4 linked regions of the Homo sapiens genome follow. The protein of the gene in region 1 interacts with the protein of each later gene in a pairwise test. Each region holds a gene or a part of one and is shown on either strand. Other genes may lie near its edges.

Region 1 (7,669 bases):
TATCACTTATGATCTATGGACTGTTCTATATAAATATTACACTTCACTAAGAGTTTTGGTAAAGTCAAAAATCAGCAGTCAGCATAAAACAAAACCCAACTATATGCTGTTACAAGAGACATGCCTTAAATATAAGCACACAAAAAGATGGAAAGTTACAGGATGAAAAAGATACCCTATATAAACACTAACCAAAGAAAGCTGGAGAAATCTCTACATCAAAGTAGCCATTAAGGCAAAAAGCATTGCTAGAAGTAAAAAATGACATTTCAAGGTAATAAAGGGGTCAAGTCACCAGGAGGATATAACCATTCTAAATCTGTATGCATTTAATAATACAGCTTCAACATATATAAAGCAAAAATGACAGAACTGAGAGATGGAAAAATCCACAGTCATTCAGTACAAGAAGCAAACAGTGAAGATATTAAAGATTTGAACAGCATGATTGACAAACTTGACCTGACATAGCTGACCTGCAGGATACACACTCTGTTCTTTTCTTTTTTTTTTCTTTTTTTTTTTTTTTTGAAACAGAGTTTCACTCTTGTTGCCCATGCTGGAGTCCAGTGGCACAATCTCGGCTCATTGCAACCTCTGCCTCCCAGGTTCAAGCAATTCTCCTGCCTCAGCCTCCTGAGTAGCTGGGAAGACAGGCGTGTACCACCATGCCTGACTAATTTTTTTTTATTTTTAGTAGAGATGGGGTTTCACCATGTTGGCCAGGATGGTCTCAAACTCCCAACCTCAGGTGATCCGCCTGCCTCAGCCTCCCAAAGTGCTGGGATTACAGGCGTGAGCCACCACACCTGGCCTTTTTTTTTTCTTTTTTTTTTTTTGAGATGAAGTCTCGCTCTGTCTGGCCCAGGCTGTAGTGCAGTGGCGCGATCTCAGCTCACTGTACCCTCCACCTCCTGGGTTCAAGCAATTCTCCTGCCTCAGCCTCCTGAGTAGCTGGGATTACAGGCACATGCCACCACATCTGGCTAATTTTGTATTTTTAGTATAAACGGGCTTTCACCATGTTGGCCAGGCTGGTCTTGAACTCCTGACCTCAGGTGATCCACCCAACTTGGCCTTCCAAAGTGCTGGGATTACAGGTATGAGCCACCACGCCAAGCTACTCTTTTCAAATACACATGAAGCATTTGCTAAAATAGATGAAATCGTGGACTATAAAGCAAATCTCAACAAATGTCAAAGAAATGAAATCATATAGAGTATGTTTGTATGTTTTCTGACTACAGTGAATTAAGTAGGAAGCAATAATAAAAAGATAGCAGGGGGCCGGGCGCAGTGGCTCACGCCTGTAATCTCAGCACTTTGGGAGGCTGAGGCAGAGGAATCACAAGGTCAAGAGATCGAGATCATCCTGGCCAACATGGTGAAACCCCGTCTCTACTAAAAATACAAAAAAAAAAAAAAAGTTGGCTGTGGTGGTGCGTGCCTGTAGTCCCATCTACTCAGGAGGCTGAGGCAGGAGAATCACTTGAATCCAGGAGGCAGAGGTTGTAGTGAGCCCAGATCACGCCACTGCACCCAACCTGGCGACAAAGCGAGACTCCGTCTCAAAAATAAATAAATAATAAAAAGATAGCAGGGAAGTCATAAAATATTTGGAAAGTAAGCAATATATCTCTAAAAATTATCACTCAGGTCAAATTAGAAAATATTTTGAATTGATAATAATGGAAACGTGGCCAGGCATGGTGGCTCATGCCAATAATCCCAGCACTCTGGGAGGCTGAGGCAGGCAGATCACTTGAGGTCGGGAGTTCGAGACCAGCCTAGCCAACATGGAGAAACCCCCATCTCTACTAAAGATACAAAAATTAGCCAGGTGTGGTGGTGCATGCCTGTAATCCCAGCTACTCGGGAGGCTGAGGCAGGAGAATCATTTGAACCCAGGAGGCAGAGATTGCAGCGAGCCAAGATTGTGCCATTGCACTCCAGCCTGGGTGACAGATCGAGACTCTGTCTCAAAAAATAATAATAATAATAGAAATGTGGCATAACAAATGTGTCAAGTGTAGCTACAGAAGTTTTTAGAAGGCAAATGATGGCTCTAAACGCATGTATTAGAAGAGATCTTTAAAAATCAAATGACCTGGCTGGGCACATGACCTGGCATCAGCACGGTGGCTCACGCCTCTAATCCCAGCACTTTAGGAGGCCAAGGCAGGCGGCTCACCCGAGGTCAGGAGTTCAAGACCAGTCTGGCCAACATGGTGAAACCCCGACTCTACTAAAAATACAAAAAATTAGCCAGGCATGGTGGGGCACGCCTGTAATCCCAGCTACTCAGTAGGTTGAGGCAGGAGAATCGCTTGAACTCGGGAGGCACAGGTTGCAGTGAGCCAAGACCGCACCACTGCACTCCAGCCTGGGTGACAGTGAAACTCCGTCTCAAAAAAAAAATCAATGGCTTAATAACCTAAAAATATCAGTGACCTAAGCATTCACCTCAAGAAGTTGGGGGGAAAAAGCTGGAAAAAGAACAGCAGATCATGCCGGGCGCGGTGGCTCACGCCTGTAATCCCAGCACTTTGGGAGGCCGAGGCGGGCGGATCACGAGGTCAGGAGATCGAGACCATCCTGGCTAACACGGTGAAACCCCGTCTCTACTAAAAATACAAAAAATTAGCCGGGCGTGGTAGCGGGTGCCTGTAGTCCCAGCTACTCGGGAGGCTGAGGCAGGAGAATGGCGTGAACCCGGGAGGCGGAGCTTGCAGTGAGCCGAGATCGCCCCACTGCACTCCAGCCTGGGCGACAGAGCGAGACTCCGTCTCAAAAAAAAAAAACAAAAAAACAAAAAAAAAAACAGCAAGATCAGGGGCTTGAGGGCACATGGCTGTAGTCCCACCTACTCAGGAGGCTGAGGTGGGAGGATTACTTGAGCCCAGGAGGTGGAGGCTGCAGTGAGCTAGGGTCACATTACTGCACTCTATCCTGGGTGAGAACCTGTCTCAGAAAGAGAGGAGGGGGGAGGGGAGGGGAGGAAGGGGAGGGAGGAGGGGAGGCAGTGGACGCGGAGGGGAAGGGAGGGGAAGGGAGGGGAAGGGAGGGGAAGGGAGGGGGAAGGGAGGGGAAGGGAGGGGAGATAAAGGGAGGGGGAGGGGAAGGGAGGTGGGAGGGGAGATGAGGGGAGGAAAGTGGGGGGAGGAGAGGAGCAGAGGGGAAGAGAGGGGGAGGGGAGGGGAAGGTACGGGGGAGGGGAGATGAGGGGAGGGGAGTGGGGGAAGGGGAGGACAGGAGCAGAAGGGAAGGGAGGCGGGAGGGGAGGGGAAGGTACGGGGGAGGGGAGATGAGGGGAGGGGAGTGGGGGAAGGGGAGGAGAGGAGCAGAGGGGAAGGGAGGGGGGAAAAGAGAGATGGCACAAATTATTAATATCCGTCACCACAGATCTTACAGATATTAAAAAGATTGGGCATGGTGGCTCATGCCAGTAACCCCAGCACTTTGGGAGGCCAAGGTAGGAGGATCATTTGAGGGCAGGAGTTCGAGACCAGCCTAACATAAGACCGTGTTTCTCCCCCTCCAAAAAAAGACAATATTATGAACTTTATGCAAATTATTTGAAATTTTAGATAAAATGGAAAAATTCCTTGAAAACCACAACTTACCAAAACCACAACTTACCAGAAATAAAATAGAACATCTGAATAGTTGTATTTTTATAAAAGAAATAGAATTTGTAATTTAAAGTCTTTCCACAAAGAAAACTCTAGGTCCAGATGGCTGGTGACTTCTTCCAAACACATAAAAAATAAATAACATCAATCCTACACTAGCACTTTCAAAGAATAGAAAAAGAGAGAACACTTCTCCACACATTATATCAGCATAGCCTTGTTAACAAAACTCAACAGGGATCTCACAGAAAAGAAAAGAAAAGAAAATATGGCAATACATAAAAAGGACAGGCCAGGCGCTGTGTCTCACGCCTGTAATCCCAGCACTTTGGGAGGCCGAGGCGGGTGGATCGCCTGAGGTTGGGAGTTCGGTACCGGCCTGGCCAACGTGGTGAAACCCCGTCTCTACTAAAAATACAAAAATTAGCCAGGTGTGGTGGCGGGCGCATGTAATCCCAGCTACTCGGGAGGCTGAGGCAGGAGAATTGCTTGAACCCGGGAGGCGGAGGTTGCAGTGAGCTAAAATTGTCCCACTGCACTCCAGCCTGGGCGACAGAGCGAGACTCCATCTCAAAAAAAAAAAAAAAAGAAAGAAATGGGGGACGGACAAGGAGTCTCTCAGTTCAATTCCCCCTTCCTCAGCCCATTTCACCAAAGCCTGAAGCGGAAGAGAAAAACACGAGCCCCAGCATGGCGGGCGCAGCCACCCCCTCCTTCCACCACCAGACAAACTCCGTGGCCACAGCCCACACCGCCAGCGCGCATGCGTGACACGCGTCGGCCGCCGGTTTGCACCTGCGTCTTAAGAGGAGTCCGGGCGGGGAGGGGCGGGGCTCAGACGCTGCGCACGCGCACTCGCGACCCCTCGCCTCCTTTTGCTTTTTCTGGCGGGAAAAGCTCACGCGCACCTCCCCCAACTCAACTGCCGTTCGTCGTTCGTGGATGTCCGTTGTGTCCCGAGACTAGGACGTGGCTCCAGGTGCGCCCTGCCCCGCGGCGAGGTTCCCAGAATGGCCCTTCCCAGCCCCTACCGAAATCCTAGCGAAGCCCCCCCATATTGTGGGAGAGATACCCCTGCGTCAGGGCCCCCCAGATCCTGACCACTTGGGAGGCCGAGGCGGGCGGATCACGAGGTCAGAAGATAGAGACCATCCCGGGGAAGTGAAACCCCGTCTCTACTAAAAATACAAAAAATTAGCCAGGCGTAGTGGCACGCGCCTATAATCCCAGCTACTCAGGAGGCTGGGGCAGGAGAACTGCTTGAACCTGGAAGGCAGAGGTTGCAGTGAGCTGAGATCGCGCCACTGCACTCCAGCCTGGGTGACAAGAGTGAGACTCCGTCTCAAAAAAAAAAAAAAAAATCCTGACCACATCCCCTCAGATATACTGAAAGGAGTCCACCAGGAAATCTTATAGTTGACCCCCGAAATCCTGTCAGAATCGTCTAGAAATTGTCAGACTTCTCCCTCAGAGCCTGCCAGAAACTTTCCCCAAAATCCTATTACTCTCCCCAGATCAGCAGAGCCACCTAGACTCGTGTCAGAGATCCCCAGAAATCCTGGCAGGTCCCCTCCCAAACCCAGTCGGACCTCAGATTCCGTCAGAGAGCACAGAAGTCCATCAAAGACACCCCAGAAACGGAGACCCCGAAATGCACTCAGAGACCCCCGCAGAAATCAAGACCCTCCAAATCCAGCCAGAGACCCCCAGAAATCCAGTCAGACCCCTGCAGAAATCAAGACCCCCAAAATCCAGCCAGAGACCCCCAGAAATCCAGAGACCCCCGCATAAATCAAGACCCCCAAAATCCAGAGACCCCGAATAAATCAAGACCCCCAAAATCCAGTCAGAGAACCCCCAGAAATCCAATCAGACCCCCGCAGAAATCAAGACCCCCGAAATCCAGCCAGAGACCCCTGAAATCCAGTCAGAGACCCCCACAGAAATCAAAATCTCCAAAATCCAGCCAGACACTCCCCAGAAATCCAGTCAGAGACCCCCCCAAAATCCTGTCAGAGCCCTTGAAAGCCCGCCAAGGCCCACACCACCCAGAGCTCCTGCCAGGGCCCCATCCTGCTTCAGTGTCCCCGTCTCAGTCCCGTCAGACCCCCGAGATCAACCAACACCCCCGGGGTCCCTCAGGACTCCATCCCGAACCCACTCCGTGCGCCAGGGCCCAGCCAAGGCCATCGCCCCCCTTTGCACCCTGCAGGGTGTTCCAGACCCTGGAAGGGCCTCTCTTCAAAGACCCGTGTTTCCAGAACGGTGGCAGCGGGCTCACGTGGCTTGGGGAGAGCAGGCACTGGGGGAGCTGGGTGAGGACAGGCGAGCCCAGGCTCGACTGGTGGCCCCAAGGGGCGCCCGTGCCCGCTGTGATGATAGCAGCGCCCAGGTCTCTCTCTAGCCCCCAGAGTGCGGCCACTAAGGTTTTGGGTCGGCCTGGGTGGAATGGAGGCAGGATGGGGCCCCCCAAACTCCTGTCACTGCTGCAGGGACTGCCCAGAGCAGCTGCAAGTGGGGCTGGCAGGGATGAGGAGGAGGTGGCCTGGGCTTGGGGGACCATGTACATCCTGAGTTGGAACCCAGGGGAGCAGCAGGTTTGGGGCCATGATGAGGAGAGACCTAGGGGTTGCCCGACGGAGAGAAAAGGGACAGGAAGAGGCAGGAGCTTCAGAGACTACTCAATGCCACTCTAGCCTGAGGGACTGGAACTTAGTCCGGGGGCATTAGGGAGCCATGGGAGGATCAGGAGCAGGGGCAAGTCAGGATCAAACTCCCATGAGAAGCCAGCCGGCCAAATCCAGGCTGATGTGGCAAGAATGGCAGCTGCCCAGGGCTGTGTGGGAGCCAGACACGGCCCCTCGCTTCCCGGAAGAGGCCACGTGAAGCCGAAGCAGGATGCAGGAGGGCGTCCCAGGCAGAGACCTGGGCATGGGAGCGGTCCGCAGCTCAGAGTGGCTGGAGCATCATGTGCGATTTGGGGTGCTGAGGTGGGCGGTCAGCCATGCAGGGCCTTGGCGTCAGGGCCAGGGTCTCACCCGTACCCAGGATTCAGGGAGCCATGGAAGGGTACTTAGCAGGGGAGGGGCAGGTCAGCTCTGGGGCCCTGTGGGGACAGACTGGAGGACAAGCCTGGGGATAGGAGGCTGGGACAAAGGCCAGGGAAGAGGACCAGGCAGCCTGGACCGGCGGCAAGCCATGTGAAGAAAGGGAGGCAGTGACCTCCCCCACCCACCCACTAGCCCCTTTGATGTCAGCCACCTCGTTCTCCAGCCCACACCTCCAATCCATAAAACAGGTCAGAGCGGAGCTGCTCAGGTCACAGCGGGGGTGACAAACAGGTTGTGAGGACCCAGAGGTCCTGGGGCACAGGTGGGGCTAGGCAGGCCCCGACCCTTGGTGGCTGCTCTGAGGACACCATTTCCTGCTTCTCCTTCCAGGAGTGCTCGGGCCAGCTGGTCCTTTTCCCATCCCTCCCCATGAAGGAGGGAGGCTGGTAGCTTTGCCAGCAGCTGCGCCGCGGCAGGGGTGGCCCATGGACCTGCCCGAGGGCCCGGTGGGTGGCCCCACTGCGGAAAGTAAGTGGCTGGAACCCTATTTGCCCCGGGGAGGGTGAGGAGGGAGCCATGGGTGAATGGGTGCCAGGCTGTGACTCGGGGACTTGGGAGAGGTGGCTGGGGGTGGCTGAGCCTTTGCATGGGTGCAGAGTGGAAGGGAGGGAAGGGACTCTGGTAGATTAAGTGCCTACTCTATGCCCGCCCACCTGTCACTACCCCTTATCTCCTGTGGGGAGGCTGGACTGTGTGAGAGCGCAAGCAGCCGCACCCCTTACTCCATTCAGATCGCGGCCCAGATGGCACTTCTTACTTTATGTAAAGCAGCTGCCCTGTGACACTCTCTCCCCTGCCCCGCTTCATTTCTCTTCACAGTGCTCACATCTGTATGTCATGTTTTGTCTCTGTCTCCCCTGCTAGAGCATGAGCTCCACAAGGCAGCGTCTGTTTTATTCACTCTGGTATTCCCAGTCCCTAGAGCAG
Region 2 (7,931 bases), on another chromosome or scaffold:
ACAACTTTTAAATGCAAGTAAAATTCCAAAGAAAAATGCTTATTTTTAATCATCATTACATGCTGCCACATTCACTAAAGAAGGTAAAAAAAAGCCCACATTTTTCATAAATGTACACCCCTAGTGGAAATGGCAGCACCTAGTGCTTGAGAATAGGCAAATGCAATGGTTTGAACCTTACCATTTCAGAAATTATGGTCATTGGCTTGGTAGAGTGAGTCTTTACCAAGCAAACCTCATAGAATATTTAAACATAGAATATTTAAACCTCATAGAATATTTAAACATTTAAACAATTAAATGTTCTCTAGTGGGAACATTAAAAGTCTTTTAAAAATACATATTATTCAGTGCAACATATATTCACTAGAACGTAAGCTCCATAGGCAGAGATTTGTGTCTGTTTTGCTCACTGCTATATTCCCACATCTACAACAGTGCCTTGCACAGAATTAACAGGCACTAGAATGACTAATTTTTAGGAATCCTTTACAACATGAAGCATCACTTTCTACCAAGATGTCACGTAGTCATGGGCTCACTGAATGACAGTGCAAGATAGAGACAGAGATCTCACAATAGGCCATCTTTATCACTTTTCAGAGGGAAAACTAAGGCTCTGAGAGAACAATGCTTTGCACAAGGTCACACAGCTAGTCATGACCCAATCAGGACTAGAACGCAGGTTGCCTGACTCCCAGTTTTGTGCTCTGTGCACAGGCTGACATCCTCTCAATGACTCTGCAAACTACAGTCATGATGATGCCTCATGCACATGTTTTCACTCCTTTAATATTGAGCTCAATATTAACAGGTATTTACATGATTATGTTTATTGATAAAGCAACTATGTGTGCTACTCTAAGTGACAAATAATGTATGTGGTTTTCAAATGATTTTGACAGTTACATGCCTATAGAAAGCAGGTATTCTAAAATATCCACAGGCCCGGTGCAGTGGCTCATGCCTGTAATCCCAGCACTTTGGGAAATGGAGGTGGAAGGACTGCTTGCGCCCAGGAGTTCGAGACCAGCCTGGGCAACACAGGAGGGAGACCCTGTCTCTAAAAAATAAATAAAATTTATTTTTTATAATAAATAAATGTCTGCAAGAAAAAACTGAGCTCCTTAACCTTAACACATCTGATTTTGATCAGTTGGACTGGGAGACTAAAATGAATGCCTGAGTTTGTGTACTGCCTTCTGTACTCTTCCCTCTCTCAGGCCAGTGTGGAATGAGCACCGTCCATGTGGACATCCTCTAAGCTCCCTGTGTTTAGAGGAGTCCATATTGGAGGAGCCAAAACCTCTTCTTCCTCATCTCCAAGTATTCTATAAAGCAGGACTTTGCAAGCCTGGCTGCTTTTCAAATTCGCCTGGGAAGCATATTAAAATACAGACTCCCGGACCACCCGAGACTCATTTGCAGCTCTGGCGGTTAGACTGGGAATCTGTATTTTTCCTCAGATGCATCAGGTGATTCTGATACGCAACCAGGTTTGCAAAAACCTCGCCTCTAAGGAACCCATCAGGCCTGCCTTCTCCAACAGCTCAGCAGTGCAGCAGTCATCCATTCTTCATTTCCCTCTGGTTGGCTTTTCCTGATATCCCCCCACCCAGCAGTCTTCTTAGCTCTACTCCTTTTGTTTCTTGGTATCCTCCCACTTCTCCCTCCCTCCATTTTAATTTTTCTTGGCTTCTAATCCTTTCTCTCCTGCTATAGACTAAATACCATATTACCTTAAAAGCTTGCCACGTTACCATTGTCCACCATATTCAGCCTTTATTCCTCCCTCAAACAGCCCCCTTCCTCCTTGTTCACCTTCCAGCCTTTCCCCATCTGCCACACACAGCACAAGCGCACACAGACCAAACACATGCCACACACATACCTGACGCATGACCCATTTCAAGCGCGCATGCACACACCACACACACACACCCCTGATAAATCACATACACTAAACACGCACACACCGCGCATGCACACACCACGAGTGCACACACACATCACTATCCACCGGGCACAAAGCTTTTACCTGCTGCTAATCCCGTCTCGGCGTTTTCTCCCACACCCTCATATTTCAAACCTACTCCCGGTGTCATTGGCCTTCCCGTCTTCTCTAGGTCTGGACCTTTTCTCACTCTCGCCCTCCCCCATGCCTCCCTCGGAACACCCTCATTTCCTTCCTAGAACCCGACACTACCCCCTCCTCCTTCCAGGAATCCCCAAGCCCAGGACCTTCGAAAACTACCCCAACAGCCTGGGCTTTGATGTGTCCCCCCTCAACGCCTTCGAGCTTCGTGGTCCCACCCACCCCCGGCTTAAGCGCCTCAGCCTTCTTTCTCTAACCCCCTCCCAGCGCTGTCAGCGCGGGCCGGGGATCCGCGTCCCTGACTGGCCCGCAGCCCCTCTAGAGCGCCTCTTGTTCCCTGCCCGCCCCGGGAGCCTCCCGGCTCTCCGCCTGCCCGCCTACCCGCCTACCCTAGCTCGCCGCCATTCCTCCCTCCACTCAGGGGCGCCCCGCTCCCGCCTCGCCTCTCTCCCGCCCAGCCCCGTGCCGGGGCCCCCTTCTTTTGTCTCCAAGCCCCCCTCGCCGGCCGCGTACCGGGCCCGTAGAATTTGCGGCCTTTGGTCACATCGAACACCTTGCCGTTGATGGCCATGAGTATGCGCGGGTCCTGGACGCCGTCGAAGCGCCGCAGCTCGGCGGGGGTGAAGTCGCGCCGCTTGAGGCGGGGCAGAGGGGGCGGCTCGTCGTCGTCGCTGTCGCCGCTGGCCGCCGGCTGGTCCCCGCGCACGATCTTGTAGAGCAGGAAGATGCAGAGGCCAAGCAGCAGCAGGTTGAGCGGCGACGTGAAAATCTCATGCAGCAGCCCGCCGCTCTCCAGATCGCTTGGGTCGGCGCCAGTCGCCACCACATCCTCGGCAGCCATGATCTCTGGAGTAAAGGTTGGGCCGCGCTAGGCAGGGATCCGGAACTCGCCACTTTCTCCTCCCTCTGAGCGAGCGAGTGGCGCGCGGGGTTCGGCGGCGGCCAAAGACTAGCCGGGGAGGAGGCGGGGCCTGAGGGGCGGAGCCTCCAAGCCCCGCCTCCCCCGAGGCCACCTAAGCGCCCCGCCCTGCTCGGTCCCGCCCCGCAGCCCTCAGGCCCCCTCCAAAGCCTCTAGAGTCCGGCGCCGCTCCCCCGCGGCCGCGCGGTGCCCCCCTCAGTTCTACCTGGGAGGCCCCAGCCCAGCCTCACGCCATCCTCGCGCCATCCTATAGCTGAGCGCGACGCACGCGCTGCCCTCCTCTGAACCCCTTTTTTGCTCCTCGCAGACCGACCCGTTGGGAGGGCCTCGGCATTGCCGGGCTCTGTGCGAGCGCCCCTCCGCCACCTGATGCGCGCCAGACACCGACTCCCTTTCTGTTGCTGCAGGCTTTTCCCTGCCTCCCATTCTGAAGCCCCTCATCTTCCCCCTGCCGTTCCCGGGCCCTCCAAGCTGTCTTAGGAGACAGGAAACTCATTCTTCGAACTCCATTTTCTATGTTAGAGCCCTACACGACTCATTTTCACCTTGGGAACCCCCATTCGCTCTCCTTGATGGCCCTTCCCCAATTCTCCCCCAGATGCTGTGGGACCGACACCCCCGGGATTGCTAAAGTCAGTGCACAACTCTCCCTATTATCTGGGGAAACGAATCTGATCGCCCAGTTAACTTTGGGTTTGTTCTCCGAAAAACCCTTTTGCAATTACTGATTTGCTCAGTCACCAGGCATTAACAAGCAACGTTCTCTTGTTGCTCTTTTTTCCCCCCTCAGAATAATGTGAAAGTTTCTTTGTTTGGCAGCGTTCTTCTATTTGGAGTCTGTCAGGCTACCCTTGGCAGTCACAATAACCCTGAGCTGGAGCCCAGACAAAGGCGGGAGTTTGGAAGGATCCTAGGCCTGGTCCCTTCCTTTCCTAGGTATTTCATCCGGCCTTTGATGTGCTAACAGGCTGCACAGAAGCAGACCTCCACGGAGGAAGGGGTTGCCTCGTCCTAATCTGGCCCTTTTTCTGGTGGCGGGGGGAGGGGAGGAGAAGAAAGGATAGAGAGGGAAACAAATAATTAAAACCAAGCCGTGCACACATCTGCAGCCCAGAGCAGTACTTTTCCACCAAGTGTTCTGTTGGCTTGCACATAACTTACTCCTCCTCCCAACACGCAAGAGACTTGAGTAAAGATTGGCTTCCTACCTCAGAATTCTAAAAATTTCTGGCAAAAACTGCTTCCATCCCTGCCCCCCACATCTTCTTAAATCATTATAAAGTGCAATGAGCCAAACAATCTTTGTATCGGGCCCAGGCATTTTTCTCAGAGCTAAATTTGGGATTAGCTGAAACAGCCCCTCCAAATCTTTTGTCAAAACTCTTCAATTTAATCATGGAGAAACAGGCTCAAACTGAGGGCACTTGTCTATAGTTAGAATCTATCTCTTTTAACATGTATGGCCAAGAAAATTTAGAAAGCTAATAAACTTATAAAATATTTTCATTTGCAACTAATATGACAAAGGGTTAATATTTATTTGAGAGATCATTTGGATTGATAAGAAAATGTATAAGATTCTAGTCAATAAATGGGAAAAAATAGGAACAGGTAGTTCACAAAAGAGAGCATGCCAGTGGTGAATAAGCATATGAAAAATGTTCAGTCTCATTAGTAACAAAAAGAAAAGCATGGAGATGCCGCTGTCACCTACTACTTTTCTACAGGAAAGATAAAAGGGAAAAAAAAAAGGATAACACACTATTGGCGAGAGAGTGGTGAGACTCACATACGCTGTTGGGTATAACCTTTTATTATCCATAAAAATATTTTCTATCCATTAATCCCACTTCTAGAAATCTGCTCTTTGACCTAGTAATTCCATTTTCAGGAATCCATCCCAAGGAGACAGAAACGCAGACAAATATTTCATTACTAAGATGCTCAGCAGAGATTCATTTTTAATACAGAAAAACTGGAAACAACCTAAATGTCCGACTTCAAATAAAATGGCGAATTAATTCACTTGAATTGTGACAAAACCATTAAAAGGCCATTCAAATATCATCATTCTGGAGTCCTAATTAGGGAAAGGGAATCAGGCTGGTGGGAGCATGAAATAGCAAAAAGAAAAAGCAAATAAGCTACAAATCTCCCTTTCTTCATGACCAAGATGCAGCCTTCCTGCGCAAATAATTCACAATCTTCCCATGCCCAGCTATCACCAGACACCTGTAAGTTAGCTCATTGCGACCTTGGCATTATCAATATTACACAAAGACCTCTTCAACAGACAGCATAAACGCCATCCTATAAAATTTCCAGCAAGCCTTTGTCTCCTGGCAGTTGGCTTCTCTCTTGCAGGCTGCCCTTTGTCTCTCTGACAACATATTTTCCTACTTTATCTAATAAATCTACCTTCTTTTAACTAAAACTGTTTTGGTAAATTCTTTTACCAAAAATCATGACATGGCAAAACGCTTGTGTTTTAATCTTGAGGGAAAAACAGGATACAAAACTATATACAGTATGAACTCAACTATGTCAAAAAATTCATAAAACAAAGCGTGGAAAGAAATATGCTAAAATGTTAACTGTTGTGATTGTTAGTTTCTTCCTTATACCTTTCTACATTTTCCACAATGGGCATGTGTCACTTTTAACCTCAGGGGGGAAAATGGTTTATTATTTATTTTCTGAAAAAAAATGTAGAATGATAATACATGTTCACTATAACAAACTTAAACAATACGTGAGTGTATAAAGTAAAAAATGAAACTCCTTTCTCCCTCTCCAAGTTCCCCAAACAGTACTTAAATCAGGCCCATACATTAGCAGTTTGGCTTATATTCTTGCAGACATGCAACATACACACACACACACACACACACACACACACACACACACATTTTGTTTTATAAAACTGGGGGAAATTTTATATAATAAAAGTTTTATCATTTTTTTCCAATAAAGAGAGACACAGAGTAAAAAAACAAAACAAAAACCAAGCCATTAGCTCCCCACCCAGATAACCCCTGCTGGAATGTTTTTTCAAAGTAATATTTGTCTAAAGTTAGAAAATTCAAACTATGGGAAGATATAGAAGACAACTGAAGTCCCTCTCCTCACTCTTGATTCTCTTTCCTCAAAGGTAACCGCTATTAAATCTGGGGAAAGTGTTTTCATGGAGGGATGGGGAGGATTAATAATTCTCATTTATCGTAGTCCAGTGTCTCTTCTGCTACACCTCTGTGTCCCCTTGGAGGATAATGGATTAAAGGAAGTCCTGCTTCACAAGGAGGGTAGAAAACTTGTGCAACTTAAGACCTCAAGAAGTGATACAGTTTAAAAATATAAATGCTTGCAAACCAGATTTGATGTTCAATAAAGTGGGCTATTAGCTAACACTGGGATGTAGAGATTGTTGAAGAAAAGCATCCCATCATTCAGGCTCATGTCAGAATCAATGCTGAGTGGAATGGTCTCCTCCAGGGTGGCAGTTCTCAAGTTATCTGGAAATAAGCAAGAGTGCTCCTGAATAAAAAGCCCCCTTCAGAACATGAGAGTTGCCTTAATATGCTCTTTGGCTCCAAGTCAATTCCTAAAGCCGATGTACTTGACCCAAGGACTACTTATTTCCCAAGATACATGTTAAGTCTTTTAGTGTTTTCAAACTTTCTGTCTCCTTTTAATTATTTTCAAAGGTTTTAAAGAGCTTTCAGAGAAAAATAGAACAATTGGCTGATTAGCTAGAAAATGTTTGGGAAATAATTCAGCCTAGTAAGGAAGCAAATAAATCCAAAGGAACATAAAAACAATGCACCATTTCTCATCATTCAAATGACTGGAGTGTTCTTTTTTCTCTTGTTTCTTGGAGCTTTTTAAGAATGGTAATACTTGGTGTTGGCAAGCACAGAGTAAAACAAGCACTCTGACACAATTGGCAAGAGTGAAATTGCTAGAATGCAAGATTCATTTTGTTCACCAATGTATTTCAAGCCCCTAGACCATGTCTGGCACATAGTAGGCATGCAATAAATATTTGTTGAACTTAATTATATTGTAAAAGGGTCTAGGCTTTCTAGAAAGTCCTTTGGCAATATGCAATAAAAGCCTCAAACTATTCCTAGCCTGTGGCCAAGAAATTTAACTTCCAGGAATTTCCCCTAGGGAAGTGTTCAGAGATGTGAACAGAGATTTGAGTAGAAGAATCACAAAGCATGATACATGATAGCAAAAAACTGGAAACAGCCTAAGTATCCAAAGATGCTCCCCATCTCACTCAGAGTAAAAGCTCAAGTCCTTATAGCACCTACAAGGCCCTACAGGATCTGCGGTACTCTACCCACCCTTACCTTTAAGACATTAGGATCTCACCACTTTCTTCCCTGGTCACTCTACTACAGCTACAGTGGCCTCCTTGCTGCCCTTTGAACAAGCAGCCATATTTCCAATTCAGGGCCTCTGTACTTGTCATTCCATTTGTCTGGAATGCCCTTCCCCAGACATTCTCATGGGTCATTCCCTCGCTACTTTCAAATCTCACACCACCTTCTTCCTACTCCTCATCCTCCTTCCCTGCTTCATTTTCCCCCATTGCATTTACTGCTTCCTTATATACAGTATCACTTCTCATTTTTTTTATCTCTTCCAACTTGAACATAAGGCGCACAAGAACAGAGGCTTTTGTCTATATTCTTCACTGTTGTATTCCTTGTGCTTAGAATAGTGCCTGGCATGTAGTAGGTGCTCAATAAATATTTGTGGAATTGAGTTTGAATATGGAAGCCCATTATGTTAAATACCCATGCACAGAAAAAAAAATCTGAAGGAAATGCACCTAAGAGTTATCTCTGGGTTGTGAGATTATAGGTAATTTTTGCTATCTTCTTTATCCAGTGAATATAAACTCTTTTT
Region 3 (7,851 bases), on another chromosome or scaffold:
TAGAGTTTCAGTTTGGGTACAGAGGTCCCAGAGATTGGAAACACTTTAGGCACCATTGTGCCTGAGTGGGAGAGGAGGGTGGCAGGCAGGTCCGGCTACCTAAGCCTCCACCCATCCAGGCTCAACAGCCCTGCCCTTCTATCAGAGCCCAGGAGGCAGCAGCAAGTGCATAATGCACAAGGAAGGGGGATGATGAAGGAACAAGGCCAGCTGCAGAACTGCTCTTCTCTCCAAAGCCTTGCCAATCACTTTCTGGAAAGAAGCAGCAGAGCCCTCGGTCTGGATACAATGTTTCTCTCTAAGCCTTGAGGCATCAGGACAAGGGCAGGGGAAAGGAGGGGTTGGGAGGAGGGACAGAGAACTGCCCCTAGTTCTTGCCATTGCAAGAGGGAATGTTTTCTCCTTGAGGAATCCCATCACCACCAGATTTGCCAGGCAGCCCAGCATGCACACCAGCATGCGTGCACATGCACACGCGTGTCCAAGCAGCCCACTGTTAACAGCCACCTCTCCCTATCACCTGAGAACCCCTAAGCTTCCATTCCAAAGGGATGTGCCTTCTGCGTTCCCTAAATCCCACTCATCTAATGGAATACAGCTGCTTATGTAAGTCCACCTTCCTCAGGGCTGTGAAGCAAGTTCCAGGTCGTTTCATGTGCCCACACCTATAGGCGTGATCCCTCCCACCTCCCCCAGCCCTGGAACGACTACATCTCCTGTGCCCCTAAACTTGCCAAAACATTCCCCTCCCCTCTGTGTCCTGCTCACTCTTCCAATCGCCTACCTGGCCTACTCAGCTCCCTCACACACTACCCTTTCTCTGCCCATCCTGTTCCATGCCCACCCATCCACCAACTCCACTTCTTCCAAGGGCATTTCTCTGTTCTGTTCCTGCTCTCCTGGCCCCCAGCCACACCTAGCCCCACCTGGCCCTGGACTTTCACTTGCTAGCAAAAAAGGCCCCTACAGTTACCAGGGCCCCCAGTGCCACGGCCCCCGTCAGCACTGTCCTCACTGATGCCCAGTTCCCCTCCCGCAGACGCCGCGCCTCCTCCAGGGCCCCGTCCCCGTATAGAGCTGTGAACTCCGCCTGTGGGAGAGAAGGGAAGCAGGAGAGAAAGAAGGAGAAAGGGATATCAGGAGAGGAAAGAGTGGAGAGAAGAGGAGAGGAAGAGTTCCAGTTCCATCCACTGCGAGCACTACCCCATACCCAGCTCCTCTCTGGCCAAAGCTCTTCTCCCTGCAAGCCCCTCTGATCCCCCCAGGTGCACCCCCACCCTGAGAGACTGGTTCATCTGCCCACTCTGCCTCCAGTGAATTCCATCCTTTCCTTGGCGAAAAATTCTGCTCAGAACTAGCATCCTTTGCCAAGGCTTGCCTGACCACCACCCATCCCTGGTCCTCCCCACCTCCCACGCCATGACTCAGATGTAAAAAGTCCCTGACAACATTCCCCTGCAGGCACTCCTTGGGTGTGTATTCTGTCCTCTGCTTGGGACCATGAGCCCATCCAGTGTTGACTGCATGGCAGCCCTGGAGTGCAGAGTCCAGGCATCTCTCAATCTAATTCCATCCAGACGGGGAGACTCAGCCCCGTACCTCATTCCCAACATAGCTGCCTCAGCCTCCAATCAGAGCCCCCATCTTCCCCCTGGAGACCAGCTTTGCAGAAGGATGTGCAGAGCGGCAATTGAGAAGCTTCTTACCCAGCCCCCACTGCTGTGGATCCAGTCAGCCAGCTGCGTCTCCAGGTAGGCCACCATCCACTCCTGCACTTGTCCCACCAGTGGTTCCATCTCCTTGTTGACACTCTCAGCACACAGTGCAGCCCCAAAGACAAAGAAGGCTACAAGGCGGCCCCAGTTGGGGCCCCCTTGAAAAAGTTCATCGGAGACCTGGGTGAAGCGTTGTTGGGCTGAGCCTGGGGTCACATGCAGCTGAGCCGCCAGATCAGAGAAGGTGCGCCGGAAGCGGGTCTCGAACTCATCTCCAGCTGCCCGCATGGCTTGGTGCAGCGGGTCAGCTGCTGGGCCCTCCCCGGGGCCAGCTCCACAGACATAACCCTTCTGCCTCAGCTTATAACCTACAAAGTCTGCCACCAGAGCCCGTGTGTCTGGGGCCGAGGCTGGGGTCGCCATCCGGGCGGCTATAAGAGGCAAGGATGAAAGACTGGCATGAATATATGAAGAGAGAATCAGAAGGAGCACTTCTGGTTTGACCAACCCAGTGAGATGAGGAGGAGAGAGGAAATGCTCAGGACTCACTGGACAGGGAGAGGCAAGAACAAGGGAATTAAGTCATGATATGAGACTAGGCTGTGAGTGGCTGGCCATTACATTCCTAATATGCCAAATTAAATGTAAAACAAGTAAATTTTCTGTTTAGGATACTTTAGATTCTTTTCACAATAAGACAACGTCAGCTCAATGACACCCCTACAACACCCCCACCCCCGGGTCTCCTTAGTCCACACCTTCTTGGCTAGAGGAAGGGTCTTAGGACCTCCCCAAATGCAAGATGTAAAGATGTTGGCAGAGACACAAGATGAGGGGGAGCAGATGGGCTGAAGAGAAAGGTGGGAGACGCAATGGGTTACTCCAGACAGAGAAAGGAAGGAGACACTCACCCAGCCGGGATGGCAGCTCTTAAGACACAGCACTGGTGGCAAGGAGCCCCCAGCTGGGGCCTTTCATCCTCCTGGCCAGCGTGGAGCCCTGGAAAGGGGAGGGGGAGATCAGAACCAGGAGGGGAAGGCCAGGGATCAGGTTCTGGCCTGGGAAGGGCTAGGGTTGCAGCTCTGGGCCTAGGCCCCTGCCCCCAACGCTCTACCAGCTGTGTGGCCGAATCCATGTTTAATGACTGTCCTCCCGGGAAACCCAAGGCCAAGGGCTTCCTGCCGACACCATCTCTATTCCCGGTTCCCCCTAGTGCAGCCCAAAGGCCCAGCTCCTCCCTTACCCCCACCTCAGCCAGTCTCCAACCCCGCCCGCCTGCCAGGTTAGGGATCTCACGGGTCAGGCCGCTGCCGGGATCCGGGCCGTTTCCTGGTGCAGGAGCTGGGAGGGAGGGAGAGAGGGAGGAAGGGAGGGAAGGAAGGAGGGAGGAGAAAGGGGGGGGCAGAGGGAGGGCCCGGCGCCGGGTGATGATGGGGCCCAGAGATGCGTCCAGAGAGAGGGGCGGGGCTGGGACGCAGGCCTGCAAAGGGCCACTACTCAGGAAGAGGGAGGGCTGCTGAAGGCAAAGAAGGGCTGGCTGAGAGGGCACGGTGGGCTGGGCTGGGCTGGGCTCCTGAGCCTCTAGGCTGCCCAGAGAAATATGCCGGACTTCGGGACATCTCGGGGCAAATTTAGCATTTTCAGGAGGTTTCCGATGTTCCATGCACTTGTTGAACTTTTCCAGCCCTGAACTGTGTGCCTGGAAAACAGGAGCAGTTCCCATTAAGCTGGGAACCGTCTACCAGGTGCCTTACCCTTATGGGGCTAGCAGACACCACATAGACACCAAACCTTTCCCATCTTTTCTCCAGGACCTTTAACCCAGTGTTCTCTTTGTGGGCTGGGCTTCAGCCAGGCATTAGGGAGCCAGGACTTGGATCACAAGCAGTTTCTCTCGGTACTTTTCTTTAATTCATCTTCTTTTGTAATTAGATTGATTTTAGTGGGGTTTTTTTCTTTTTCTTTTTTTTACCCAACACACAAACTCATTCTCATTATGAAAAAAATCAAACAATAAAGACGTGCGGAGTAATAAAATACAGGTTCTCAAACACACACACACATACACACCCAATTCCACTTCCCTCCCTGCAGGTTGCCAGTGTTAAGCTTGATGTTTATCCTTCCAGATTACATATATATGGGGCCATTATTTATACATGGCAGTATATTTATACAGGGCAGGTCACAGGCGTGAAGCAGTCTGACCATAGCTGATCCACATGAGGGCACTCACAGCCAGCCCCCTGGGCTCTTGGATCTGGCACTTTTTTAAAGAGTGCCCCAACCAAAGGCCAGAAAGAGGCAACCTAATTCTCCTATTCTGCTAGCTCCCTTTGCTTCTACCTCCAATCCAAGCCTCTGTATTACCATCTTCCCTTATGGTCACTGGAGAAGCAAGGTCTTTTCTGCAGCAATAACAGTAACAACTAGCTGGGTTCGGTGGCTCATACCTGTAATCCCAACACTTTGGGAGGCCAAGGCGGGTGGATCACTTGAGGCCAGGAGTTCGAGACCAGCCTGACCAACATGGCAAAACCCCATCTCTACTAAAAATACAAAAATTAGCCAGACGTAAAATACAAAAATTAGCCAGCCTGTAATCCCAGCTGCTCAGGAGGCTGAGGCATGAGAATCACTTGAACCCAGGAGGCTGAGATCATGCCACTGCACTCCAGACTGGGTGATAGAACGAGACTCTATCTCAAAAAAAAAAAAAGGTAAAAACTAACATATTTTGAGGAGTTATTAGATGCTGTGCTTTTTTTACATGTGTATTTTTTCCTCTCACCAGTCCTTATGCTGTTTTATCCTCATTCTATGAATGAGGAAATTGAGGTTTGGAGAGGTTAAGTGATTTTCCCAAAGCCATAGGCTGATATGTAAGAAGCTAGCACAGCCATCTCATGCTGTAACTTTGACACTATCGCTTCAAGATCACCTCTTGCCTTCACATAGTCAATATGGTTCTCATAGTCTGAATCCACACCATTTACAAGTCCATACTCAATTCTCTCCTCTATTCTAAACACACAGCCTATTACACTCCTTTATGGCTGTATCCTTTCAACCATCCTCATTTCATTTTTGCTCTTAGCCTGATCATTCTGGCTGCCACCAGCAAGGTTGCCCTCTTCTTTAGAGAATAACCTAGTCCAAGTCTTCATTTGCACTCCTGGTTTATTTGTTTGTTTGTGATACAAGGTTCTCACTCCATGGCCTAAACTGGAGTGCAGTGGTACAAGCACAGTTCACTTCAGCTTCCACCGTCTAGGCTCAAGCAATCTTCCCACTTCAGCCTCCCTGGTAGCTGGGACTAGAGGTGTACTGCACCATGCTTGGTTAAATTCATTTTTTATAGAGATAGGGATCTCATTATGTTGCCCAGACTGATCTCAAACTCCTGGGCCAGCTTGATTGTAACATAAATTAATGTATGATTTATTAGACATTAATTTATATGCATTATATATATTATATTGTATATGCATATACAATATATACATTGTATATATTGTATCACATATAATGATACGAAGAGAATACATCCATGCATTCTATATACGTGTAAAATTTAAAAAGTCAATATTGCTTTAAAAATGAGTCCTAGCTAACTAGTATTGCTACAGTCAATACTAGTGCGAATGCATGTAAACAGGAATGAATTGTATAATAATAAGATAACATGTGTCTCATGGTTTATTTTCAACTTAGTCACTTGTGGTTTTACAGTTAAACTATCCTGCTGCTTTAAATTTAGAGACTTCATTTCTACTCTAATATTCCCTCTTTTAACACTCTGAGGATGTTAACTATTATTGTTAAATGTTTTAATCTTATATAACCAAGCGGGTAAGAGCGTGGACTCTAGAGCTAAACTGTTTAGGTCCTAATCCCACCTCCCCAATTATTAACTATGTGACCCTGGGTAAGAGTCCTCTCCCCTCTCTCCCTCAATTCTCTCATCTTTAAACTAGACATAATAGTCTCTATTCCTCTGATGGTTGTATTACATGGGTTAGTATTTGTAAAACCCTTACAACAGTACCTAGCACATTGTAAGTGCTATATTAGATCAGTAGGAAAGTTAGAAAAAAACTAAAAACAACTTCACTTTTTTTTTTCACTAATGTTAAAAAAAAAAAATGAAAGGGGAAAAAGCCAGCTCTGCCCTTCTTGGAAGCTCCCACTGGACCTATAATTCCACAGTCCCAACTCCAAGAGAGTTGTTGGGTGCTTGTTCATTCAATAATTTGAGTGCCTACCATATACTAAAACTCACCATGAATCAGACAAAGCCCCTGCCCTCAAAGGGCTTACACTTGGATTAGAAATCAGAACTCCACCACTTTTTTACAGATAAGAACACTGAGTTCAGAGTATGGCTCTGAGTTCAGGGGTGGCTCACACCTGTAATCCCAGCACTTTGGGAGGCCGAGGCGGGCAGATCACCTGAGATCAGGAGTTCAAGACCAGCCTGGCCAAGATGGTGAAACCCCGTGTCTACTAAAAATACAAAAATTAGCCGGGCGTGGTGGTGGACGCCTGTAATCCCAGCTACTCAGGAGGCTGAGGCAGGAAAACCGCTTGAACCGGGGAGGCAGAAGTTGCAGTGAGCCGAGATCACGCCACTGCACTCCAGCCTGGGCGACAGAGCGAGACTCCATCTCACACTCACACACACACACACACACACACACACACGAGAACACTGACTCCAGAGAAGTTATGCCTTGCTTGCTCAAGGTCACTAGAAGCTAGGTCTTCCTGCAGTTCTCAGTTCGGGTGCCATATTCTCACCTTCTATTTGAAAGACTCTACCTAGCTTTCATGACCTTTCCTTCTTTGCACGCACCACCACCCCCTGCCCAAACCAGGAGCCTAGGTTTCAGAAAAGAAAACAGTGAACCCCAAAGATAAAGTCACATGCTGGGCGTTTTGAACCTTCCCCTGCAAGAAAATGAAAGGTTATTTTTTCTTCCCGGCGTTAACCTTTCCTGTGCTGTGCCGGAAAAGTTGAGGACTTTTTACATTTTATTATTATTATTATTGTAGAGATCAGGGGTCTCACTATGACGCCCAGGCTGGTCTTGAACTCCAGGCTTCAAGCGATCCTCCCACCTCGGCCTCCCAAAGTGCTGGGATTTGAGGCGTGAGCCATCGCGTCCCGTCCGTGGATGTTTTTTTTAAAAGGTTGAGTAGCTTCACTCGGGACCGCAAAGGTGGAGTCCCCGCCCCCTGGTGCAGCAGCGAAGACAAGCGGAGCCACCTGTCAGAGGGCTGTGGGCGGGGGCGCCCGGGCCGTGAGGGCCTTGGAACCGGAGGGTGAGTGCAGTTGAGCGCACGCTCAGAGCAGACCGCTAGCAGGAGGCAGGATGTGATAGTCTAAGACCCTGGAAGCTGACGGCCAGAGGGAGGGAAGGGTGGTCACAGAGGAGAGGCAAAGCAACGGGAGGTGGAGGATCCTGGAGGTGTCTGCAAGGAGAATACACAGCAGCGAGGGGCTGCAGAAGCGGACCCAGCGACTTCTGCGCTGACGCGGGGCGGGCGGGAGAGAGGAAGAGAGGGGAGCGCGGTGGCGCTGCGAGCTGGCCCCGCCGGGGAAGGGGCTGCCATGTCCCGTGAGCGGCCCCCGGGCACCGACATTCCCCGCAACCTGAGCTTCATCGCCGCGCTAACGGAGCGCGCCTACTACCGTAGCCAGCGGCCCAGCCTCGAGGAGGAGCCGGAGGAGGAGCCAGGCGAGGGCGGGACGCGGTTCGGGGCCCGATCCCGCGCTCACGCACCGAGTCGGGGCCGCCGGGCCCGATCTGCACCAGCCGGAGGCGGCGGGGCCCGGGCGCCCCGCAGCCGTAGCCCAGACACCCGCAAGAGAGTGCGTTTCGCCGACGCACTGGGGTTGGAGCTGGCTGTCGTGCGCCGCTTCCGTCCCGGTGAGCTGCCCCGGGTGCCCCGCCACGTGCAGATCCAATTGCAGAGGGACGCCCTCCGCCACTTCGCGCCCTGCCAGCCCCGCGCCCGCGGCCTCCAGGTAGGCGGCGGGGGCACCTCCCCTCCTGGGGACCTCCTCCAGTCGGCCGCAGCGGGCTTGTGGGAGTGGATTTGCCAAAGAGCACCCATCTCCATCCCATCCCTG
Region 4 (7,663 bases), on another chromosome or scaffold:
TTCAACCTTGAATTTTGCAGACACAAACATTCAGTCCATAACACAGAGACTGAGAATATTCGGGCAGGGAAGTAACAGCAACAGAAAAATAGAAGGTATGACTAAATTTGAAAATGCTTCAAATCGCTGCAGTGGTCGTACTTAAAATTTCCGGGTGACAGTGTCCCATAGGTGCAGGAAGAGTTTGCCTCTTTCTCACAGTTAGAGGTGTAGGAGGTTAGACATGTGCAACTAACTATGGAGACAACAGTTGTCACTCAGAACCCAGGTGCTGTAGCTCAGGTGGTTTGGATGGGAGGCAGGCAAAGGCTTCTGTATTGGGACAGATGAGCAAGGCAAGTACGCTCTTTGCCTCTAGCTGCAGAAACCAACTGACCTGGCCTTGGAGGAACCCGTGGGTGATTTACAATATCCAAGAGGTATGGGATATGAAAAACCCAGGTACTGATGTTGAGGTGAAGTGAAGGTGTGCTTCAATGCTTAGTCGGGAGATGGCAAGAGGAATTTAGAGGGCAGTCTGGTTCTAGGTCTCTGGGCAGATTCCATCTAGTAGGGTCCAGAGATAAACCTGAAGTTTGGTGTCTCCTGAGTCCATTCACCCCTTGTGATGGTGGTGGGGAAAGGCTTCTGGGCACTGTTATGGCTCATTAGTCCAAACTTTCTCTGTGGAGGGTGTAAAGCTTCTCTTTTTCCCCCCAAATTAGTACATGCTACCTTTCAACACTTCAGTTGTTGCCTTTCTGCATTTGCGTAGAAGTTTGCCCTGTTTTCCATTAGTTGCCATTTTTACTAGTTTGGTTCTGCATTTTGTCAACAGGAATGATTTTGCTGCAGATTGAAAACATAAGTATTTGGCTGAAAATTCTGTAATTGGGGGTTTTGATCTTCTAAACCACAATAACATGGCAAAATTTAGGTAGTTCTTGATATAGGATAGGCTTAGGGAGTGAGAATGTTGATTTGGTGTTCAGGTCAGGCTGAGGAATAACCTTAAGAACTCGAATCCAAGTATGAGTTGCTAGAGTGGGCTACATGAGATTGTAGGTACAAGGGCATAATCATGACCCTGGAGAGAATTTGAGTTGCCTATGTTCTTTAACTTGTACAATTTCTCTTGCTTGGAAATCACTCCCTTTTCTTCAACACTAATTTTTAAAAAAATAAGTATTTTCTCCAATAGTTATTTAAGAATTTCCTTCACAATTCTTATTAAATCAATCCACTCATTCATGCATGCATGCATTCATTTATTAAATATATTCCTCAGTGTACAAACGTTTATTAGACACCAAATGCCAAGCACTGGGCTAGGTGCTGGAGATTGAAAACCAATGAAGCCATGGTCTCCATCCCTAAGAAGCTCAGCACCTGGCAAATTCTTCACACTTCAACCCATCTTGGGTCTCTGGAGTCTATCCAGTCATTTCTCAGTATTCATTTAACTGGTTTTGTGTTCAATTTGTGTTTATTCCTAGTATATTCCCTGAAGTGGCCTGCCTTCCGTAAGTGACTAGGCATTTTCATTAGAAAAAATTATGCATTCTTCTTTCCTTATCATCATAGGGCCTGATGTTCTGCACAGAGTAGGCTCTAACACACACTGTTAACTGAGGGACCACTTTCCAGGGTAAATAAATGGGGTCAGCTGATTATTACTTATATACACGATTGTTGATATTGCTAATAGAAATTTGAGGGTTGTTGACGATGTAGTCAACTGATATGAAAAGCCTCTATTACCAATCTGTAGACCAAACACAGCCTCTGTTTTCCTCATATACACCAGATACCCCATAGATACCCTCCTGCAAAAATGCAGCAGTATGTTTGATTTTTAATGACAGGAGGATTAAATTAAAGTTATGTCTACACGGATGTCTTCCTTGTGTGTTGCAACTGTTCAAGAAGTACGGTTTGGGGAGGTCCCCTAATGAAGTGCATAAATAGTAACTTTCTTTCAAACTGTCAGTGAAGATTGCTGTATTACTCATGTGAATTTCGGTGACCCCTTACTCTAGAAGGAGCCCAGGGTAGAACACATTTTTACAAATAATACACTTTGCTTTGCAGCTCTGATAATTTTGTTCCTGTCTTTGAGTCTGTCATACAACCAGGAGGCTGCTTGTTTCTTAGGACAAAGGTATTTGCAGGGAAACTGATCAAACTATTTTTATTAATAATCTCATTATTATTAATAATCTCATTACGGAGGCATCACCAATGCTTTTGTGCATTTGAGGGCTACCAAATAGATTAAAGTTTTATTCTGGAAACTCTGGAGCCATACAAGAACAAAGAAGCTTATGAGCACAGTGGGTGGTGGTTCTTCCCTGGCTAAGGCACATTTGTGCTTGGGAGAACTGCTGTCCCATTTCTGCAGTATTGCCACCCCTCTGGTAAGGGGTCTTCTAATGAATTGGCCATAGGAGACCTTAAAGGTAGTCATGACTACAGGCTATACCACTGTTAATGAGATTTTCTTTCTGACAGGGCACCAACATGCTCCTTGAAAAAAGGTACAAGGAAGGCTCATTACAGCCACATGCAGAGGCTACTAGCAAATGAGAACAGATTTGCCATTTGTTTTGGTGGGAATCGGGAGGAAGAGGGGAATTGTGCTGGGAGGTAGAGACACATTCTTCTCCTTATGTCCATATTCATTGCATTCAATCTTAGAATAATGGATTCAGTCTCCCAGTTTTCATTCTCACACATTCTGTATGCATTCCCTGCCTTGGACTGGGGATCTAAGTGGTTAGAACATTTGACCAAAGAGGCCAAGGCTGAACTGCTTCCCACAGAGAACAATGAACTTTACAGCCCACATTTCTCCCTATCTGTTCTTCTTCACTCTCTATCCATCCATTTGTGGTTTTCCTGTCTCCCCTTCCCCCTCCCCACCACCCCAGTTTCTGAATAGTGTACCAGGGGTTTAAGACCCTGTTTCTCACATTAGCACTGTGCTTATTCTGAGAGTTTGTGTGGAGCTTCTGGGGTGGGGTGGAGTGGGGCATGAACCTTCTCTCCTTGTTTTGAACCCAGCAATCTTACATATTGATCTAGTCTTTAGGAAATTAAACAAACAATGAAAAAGCTGACATTTTTATGGCACGTCAAAAGTCATAAGCAACTTCCCATACAATATTTCATTTAATTCAAACAATTTAGGAATTGTTACAACCCTAGAGGGGCTAAGTGACATGCTCAAGGCCACCGACTCATTGTGACACAGCTTTTTTGTTTGTTTTTGTTCTTTTGAGACAGCCTTACTCTGTCACCCATGCTGCAGTGCAGTGGTGTGAACATGGCTCACTACAGCCGCAACCTCCCAGGCTCAGGTGATCCTCCCACCTCAGCTTCCCAAGTAGCTGGGACCACAGGTGCATACCGCCACACTTGGCTATTTTTTTCATTTTTTGTAGAGACAGGGTCTCACCACATTGCCCAGGATGGTCTCCAACTCTTGAGCTCAAGCCATCCTCCCACCTTGGCCTCCCAAAGTGCTGGGATTACAGGTGCGAGCCAGCATCCCCGGCCCAGAGCTGGGTCTTAATACCGAGACTAACACCTTTTTCTTTCTCCAGGGAAGAAGGCAGAGGTCACAAAGGTGTGTGAAATGTTGAGCAGGGCAAATGGATCCTGGAGCCCAGGGTCAGAGCTGCTGAGCAAGAGAAAATGCATCTTATTTCTCAGTTTTATGAAGAATAAGCTTGAGATCTTGAATGCCTGGCTGGCTCACAAGAAGCTCAGGGGCAATAGAGGTCAAAGTTTTCTGGAGAGAGAAACTGCTCCTGGGGTCCTCCTTGACTGGGTTTGAGGCAGTGCCCTGGCCTGGGAGAGCGGGCACTGGGTCATCGGGATCCCTTTGTTTATTTGGGTGTTTTCTCTTCCCTATATGAAGCATACAGTGGTGAGTACTTGATAGGGCAGAGTCCTACCTGGTTGGCCAGGGAACAAAACGTTGCTGGTCTTTCCTTCAGAGTGGGGTTGTTAGACAACTTTGTCTAGAAACAGTCACTGTAAGGAACAGGTCAACGACAACTTGGGCAATAGGAACTGAAGAGGGAAGCTCAGTCGCTCCTGGAGGAGAGCCACAGTCCCTAAGGCAAGTTCCCTAACTGTCTGTGAAAAGTAGTATTCAGTAAAATGGGGGAGAGCACTAGAAGTGCTGTGAGGCAAAGGACTGAGGGTTGCTTTTCCTCCATGGAGCCTCCAAACTCTGTGTCATCCACAAAGACTACTTTGGTCTCATCTCTTTCAAGGAAGTACCAAGTGGGAAACCAAATATTGGGCTTTACAAAGCACATTTGAGTTAATGTTTGGCAGGGGATATCTGGATCCAAGGGCAGCTCACAGAGTGGGCCTCACTGACAAGGTGTGGGCCATGACTCAGATTCCTGGGTGTCCTGAACCTCCTGGGGCAGTTCACACGTTCCCTGGCCACTCCCTCTTTTCCTACATGCTGGCCATGGGGAAATCACCACTGGGCACTATAAGAAGCCCCTGGGCTCTCTGCAGAGCCAGCGGCTCCAGCTAAGAGGACAAGATGAGGCCCGGCCTCTCATTTCTCCTAGCCCTTCTGTTCTTCCTTGGCCAAGCTGCAGGGGATTTGGGGGATGTGGGACCTCCAATTCCCAGCCCCGGCTTCAGCTCTTTCCCAGGTGTTGACTCCAGCTCCAGCTTCAGCTCCAGCTCCAGGTCGGGCTCCAGCTCCAGCCGCAGCTTAGGCAGCGGAGGTTCTGTGTCCCAGGTGAGGAGGCCCCAGAATCTGAATGAGCTGCATTCATTCCCTTCCATTTGCTTTTGGGTACCTGAATACAATTTCATGGATGGCTAGACCTGGGCACTCTAAAAGATTTACGACTCATTTTGTTAACTATAGGTGCCCCGGAAATGAATTAAAGCCTCAGTAAAATAATTAAATTGTTAGCAAGAGAGACGATATCGCAGTTCTCCAGCTGGGACTTTTGGGAATATCTATGCTTTAGAGGAATTCTCAAATCTGGCTGCACATTAGAATGGGTGGCCGGGGGGACTCTAAAAGTACAGATGCCTGGGTTCTGTACTTAAAAAAATCCTACATAGATGTATACAAATCAAATATTTTAAAAAACCTCTCCCCAGGTGATTCTAATATATAGTCCAAGATGGGAACTGTTAGGGAAAGACTCTGTGAGTTGCAGCTCTGGGAAGTTTGTCCAGTTGTTTTGCTGCCTGGCAGGATCCCGGAATGGTGAACAGTAGCCCTCGAGGGAGTGAGAGCCGCAGTGCCCTAGTTGAAGCCCTGACCATTTCTCTTGGCCTGGTTTATAAAGGAGGTGGGTGTCAGAAATAAGGGGGGAGTTACTGGTCTTTAGCAAAGTGTTATTACCAGTGGACATTCGCCTAGGGGAGTGTTCACTCTTTGCAGTCTTCTTTACAGGGAATCTTCAGGACCATTTCCAGCTCCAAACAACAGTAGCAACAAACAAACAAAACCAAAAGTCATGCATTACAACGAGGCTGGTACAGCTAGGCTAAGTGCATTGAAGGCATAGTAAGCCAGTTCCGTGGGGGATGAGTCCTCTTTGGATCTCCTTTAAAGAAAGGAGAATGGGCTGGAGGGCATGAGAGGTTAGGAGGTAAGAAGCAGTTATTCATTTCACTCTGGGCCTTTCTGCGGGAACCCCACTCTGCAAACCTCCTAGGCTATTTTTGCTAAGGTATAACTTGGGGTGGGGGAGTCTTATCTGGGCCAAAGCTTCTCTCTCTAAGCCTCTAGGATCTTTCCTCACAGGTCAGGTAGCTGCTTACATTATCATGCTTGAATGGAAGGGCAAATGGGAGAAGGGGGAGGAAAAGACTTTTATTTGTTTTATTTTGACCATCAGAAATTACAGATAATAAAAATGTGATAATTAACAAATGATTTGGATAGGGCCTAGATAGAAACAGCAGCAATAACATTTACTGTGTGTCTAATAAATGCCAGGACTAGGTTAAGTACATAATATATATCTTTTTGTTGTTGTTGTTGTTTGTTTGTTTTTTGAGACAGAGTCTCATTCTGTCACCCAGGCTGGAGTGCAGTGGCACGATCTCGGCTCACTGCAACCTCCGCCTACCAGGTTCAAGCGATTGTCCCACCTCAGCCTCCTGAGTAGCTGGGATTACAGGCACCCGCCACCACGCCTGGCTAATTTTTGTATTTTTAGTAGAGATGGAGTTTCACCATGTTGGTCAGGCTGGTCTCGAACTCCTGACCTCATGATCTGCCTGCCTCAGCCTCCCAAAGTGCTGGGATTACAGGCATGAGCCACCGCACCTGGCCTGTATTATCTTATTTAACCCTAAGAGGTAGGTACAATTAATGGTCCCATTTTAGAGATGTGAAAACTAAGGCTTATCAAGGTGAAGTCATTAGTTTTAAGTCACTAAGCTAGCAAGTTATATAGCTCAAAATTAGTCTGTCCATTCTCTTCACCATGTCTGTACATATAGGTTTCTATATTTCCAAGGAGTATAGATGAAAATTGCTTATTTTTTAGTTAGAGGAGGGAGGCTTGGGAATCATAAGTAGGCACAAGGATTCTTTGCAGTCAGAAATCAGTTACATAAGTTTATTCTGTGATACTCAATGATTTCTGGGGATGATCAGAATTGTCTAGCACTCTTTTTTGGACTGAGGTTAACAATAATAATTTATTATGAAGCTCCATCACCAGTCAGAAACCAGCATTTGGGTAAGATTATCAACTATAATAATAGAAAATAAAATACAGATCAAGAAACAGAGAAATCCAGAATGCCTATTGTCTGGTAAAAAGACAGATATTTAAAAGTAGATGAGACATGGTAGTTAAATTGGACTTAGAGGTTTTAATTTTCCTTTTTACTTATCTCTCCCTGGTGAGTCAGTATCACAACTCCAACTTTTTTTTTATACTGGACTAGGAGTCAATTTCACTATCAACCTAATTTTCTGGGGCTGGCTGTCAGCTTGATGAGCTCTTTGGAAGGTGGTAGAAAACCCTTTTATAACTGTCATTGAGTAAGTTCCAAACATATCATTTTCTGTACTTTGAAAATGTTGAGTACCATTATTTTATACCTTGAATCTTTGCTGACACTTAGCCTTGGCTACTAATTAGAGCCAGTTGCAACATTAAATCACCTTAAATGTGAGTTGCACCTTCTGCTGTAAGCACTCAGAGTACTCTCTGCCTCAGACGTCTCCCTCCTGAGGAGGGGCCTCTGCAGGGTCCTCAATTCACAAGACTAGGAAAAGCCTCAATGCTCACTCCACAGAGTAACTGGTATAGTTGGAACTGCAACGAGTCACGTGTTTTCTTGTCATCAGGCTACAAGGCTGGTTTGAAAAAACAAGTAGGGCTTTCAGAGTGACAGTGGGCCTGATTCCTGGGCAGAAATTGAGTCTTAATCATCTCCCTAAAGCCAGAACCTGGCATAGTGTAGACATCAGTAAATGTTAATTGAACACGTGCTTAGGGAAAACCTACCAATATAAGGTGTCTTGTGAGGTACTCAGGGTCCTATTTGCCCTACAGAAGGGGAATCGCATATTCTTCCAAAGGCCAAGGGGACAAGCTCTTGTCTTTGTCTCCCATCCCCCATGCTTCATTCATGTAGAGTTTGGGCATTCACCGCAGAGAGAGACTCATCA

The links.
Region 2: the proteins of KASH5 (region 1) and PGRMC1 interact in binary tests that used the Homo sapiens proteins (3 or more experiments, as listed by UniProt).
Region 3: the proteins of KASH5 (region 1) and BCL2L2 interact in binary tests that used the Homo sapiens proteins (3 or more experiments, as listed by UniProt).
Region 4: the proteins of KASH5 (region 1) and OLFM4 interact in binary tests that used the Homo sapiens proteins (3 or more experiments, as listed by UniProt).

What each region holds. Positions count from the first base shown.
Region 1 is NC_000019.10:49,383,717-49,391,385, forward strand, and holds the start of KASH5 (protein KASH5), read left to right. Parts: upstream 1-4,532; 5' UTR 4,533-4,611; exon of another isoform or gene 4,612-6,622; intron 6,623-6,861; exon of another isoform or gene 6,862-6,930; intron 6,931-7,072; 5' UTR 7,073-7,167; coding exon 7,168-7,210; intron 7,211-7,669. UniProt on the Homo sapiens protein: As a component of the LINC (LInker of Nucleoskeleton and Cytoskeleton) complex, involved in the connection between the nuclear lamina and the cytoskeleton.
Region 2 is NC_000023.11:119,231,369-119,239,299, reverse strand, and holds the start of PGRMC1 (membrane-associated progesterone receptor component 1), read right to left. Parts: upstream 3,016-7,931; 5' UTR 2,937-3,015; coding exon 2,609-2,936; intron 1-2,608. UniProt on the Homo sapiens protein: Component of a progesterone-binding protein complex. Binds progesterone. Has many reported cellular functions (heme homeostasis, interaction with CYPs). Required for the maintenance of uterine histoarchitecture and normal female reproductive lifespan.
Region 3 is NC_000014.9:23,302,055-23,309,905, reverse strand, and holds the start of BCL2L2 (bcl-2-like protein 2), read right to left. Parts: upstream 3,074-7,851; 5' UTR 3,012-3,073; exon of another isoform or gene 2,959-3,011; intron 2,715-2,958; 5' UTR 2,627-2,714; intron 2,147-2,626; 5' UTR 2,139-2,146; coding exon 1,707-2,138; intron 1,091-1,706; coding exon 941-1,090; 3' UTR 1-940. Other genes in the region: BCL2L2-PABPN1 protein, read right to left, coding at 974-1,090, 1,707-2,138; PPP1R3E (protein phosphatase 1 regulatory subunit 3E), read left to right, coding at 7,330-7,746. UniProt on the Homo sapiens protein: Promotes cell survival. Blocks dexamethasone-induced apoptosis. Mediates survival of postmitotic Sertoli cells by suppressing death-promoting activity of BAX.
Region 4 is NC_000013.11:53,024,291-53,031,953, forward strand, and holds the start of OLFM4 (olfactomedin-4 precursor), read left to right. Parts: upstream 1-4,522; 5' UTR 4,523-4,546; coding exon 4,547-4,750; intron 4,751-7,663. UniProt on the Homo sapiens protein: May promote proliferation of pancreatic cancer cells by favoring the transition from the S to G2/M phase. In myeloid leukemic cell lines, inhibits cell growth and induces cell differentiation and apoptosis.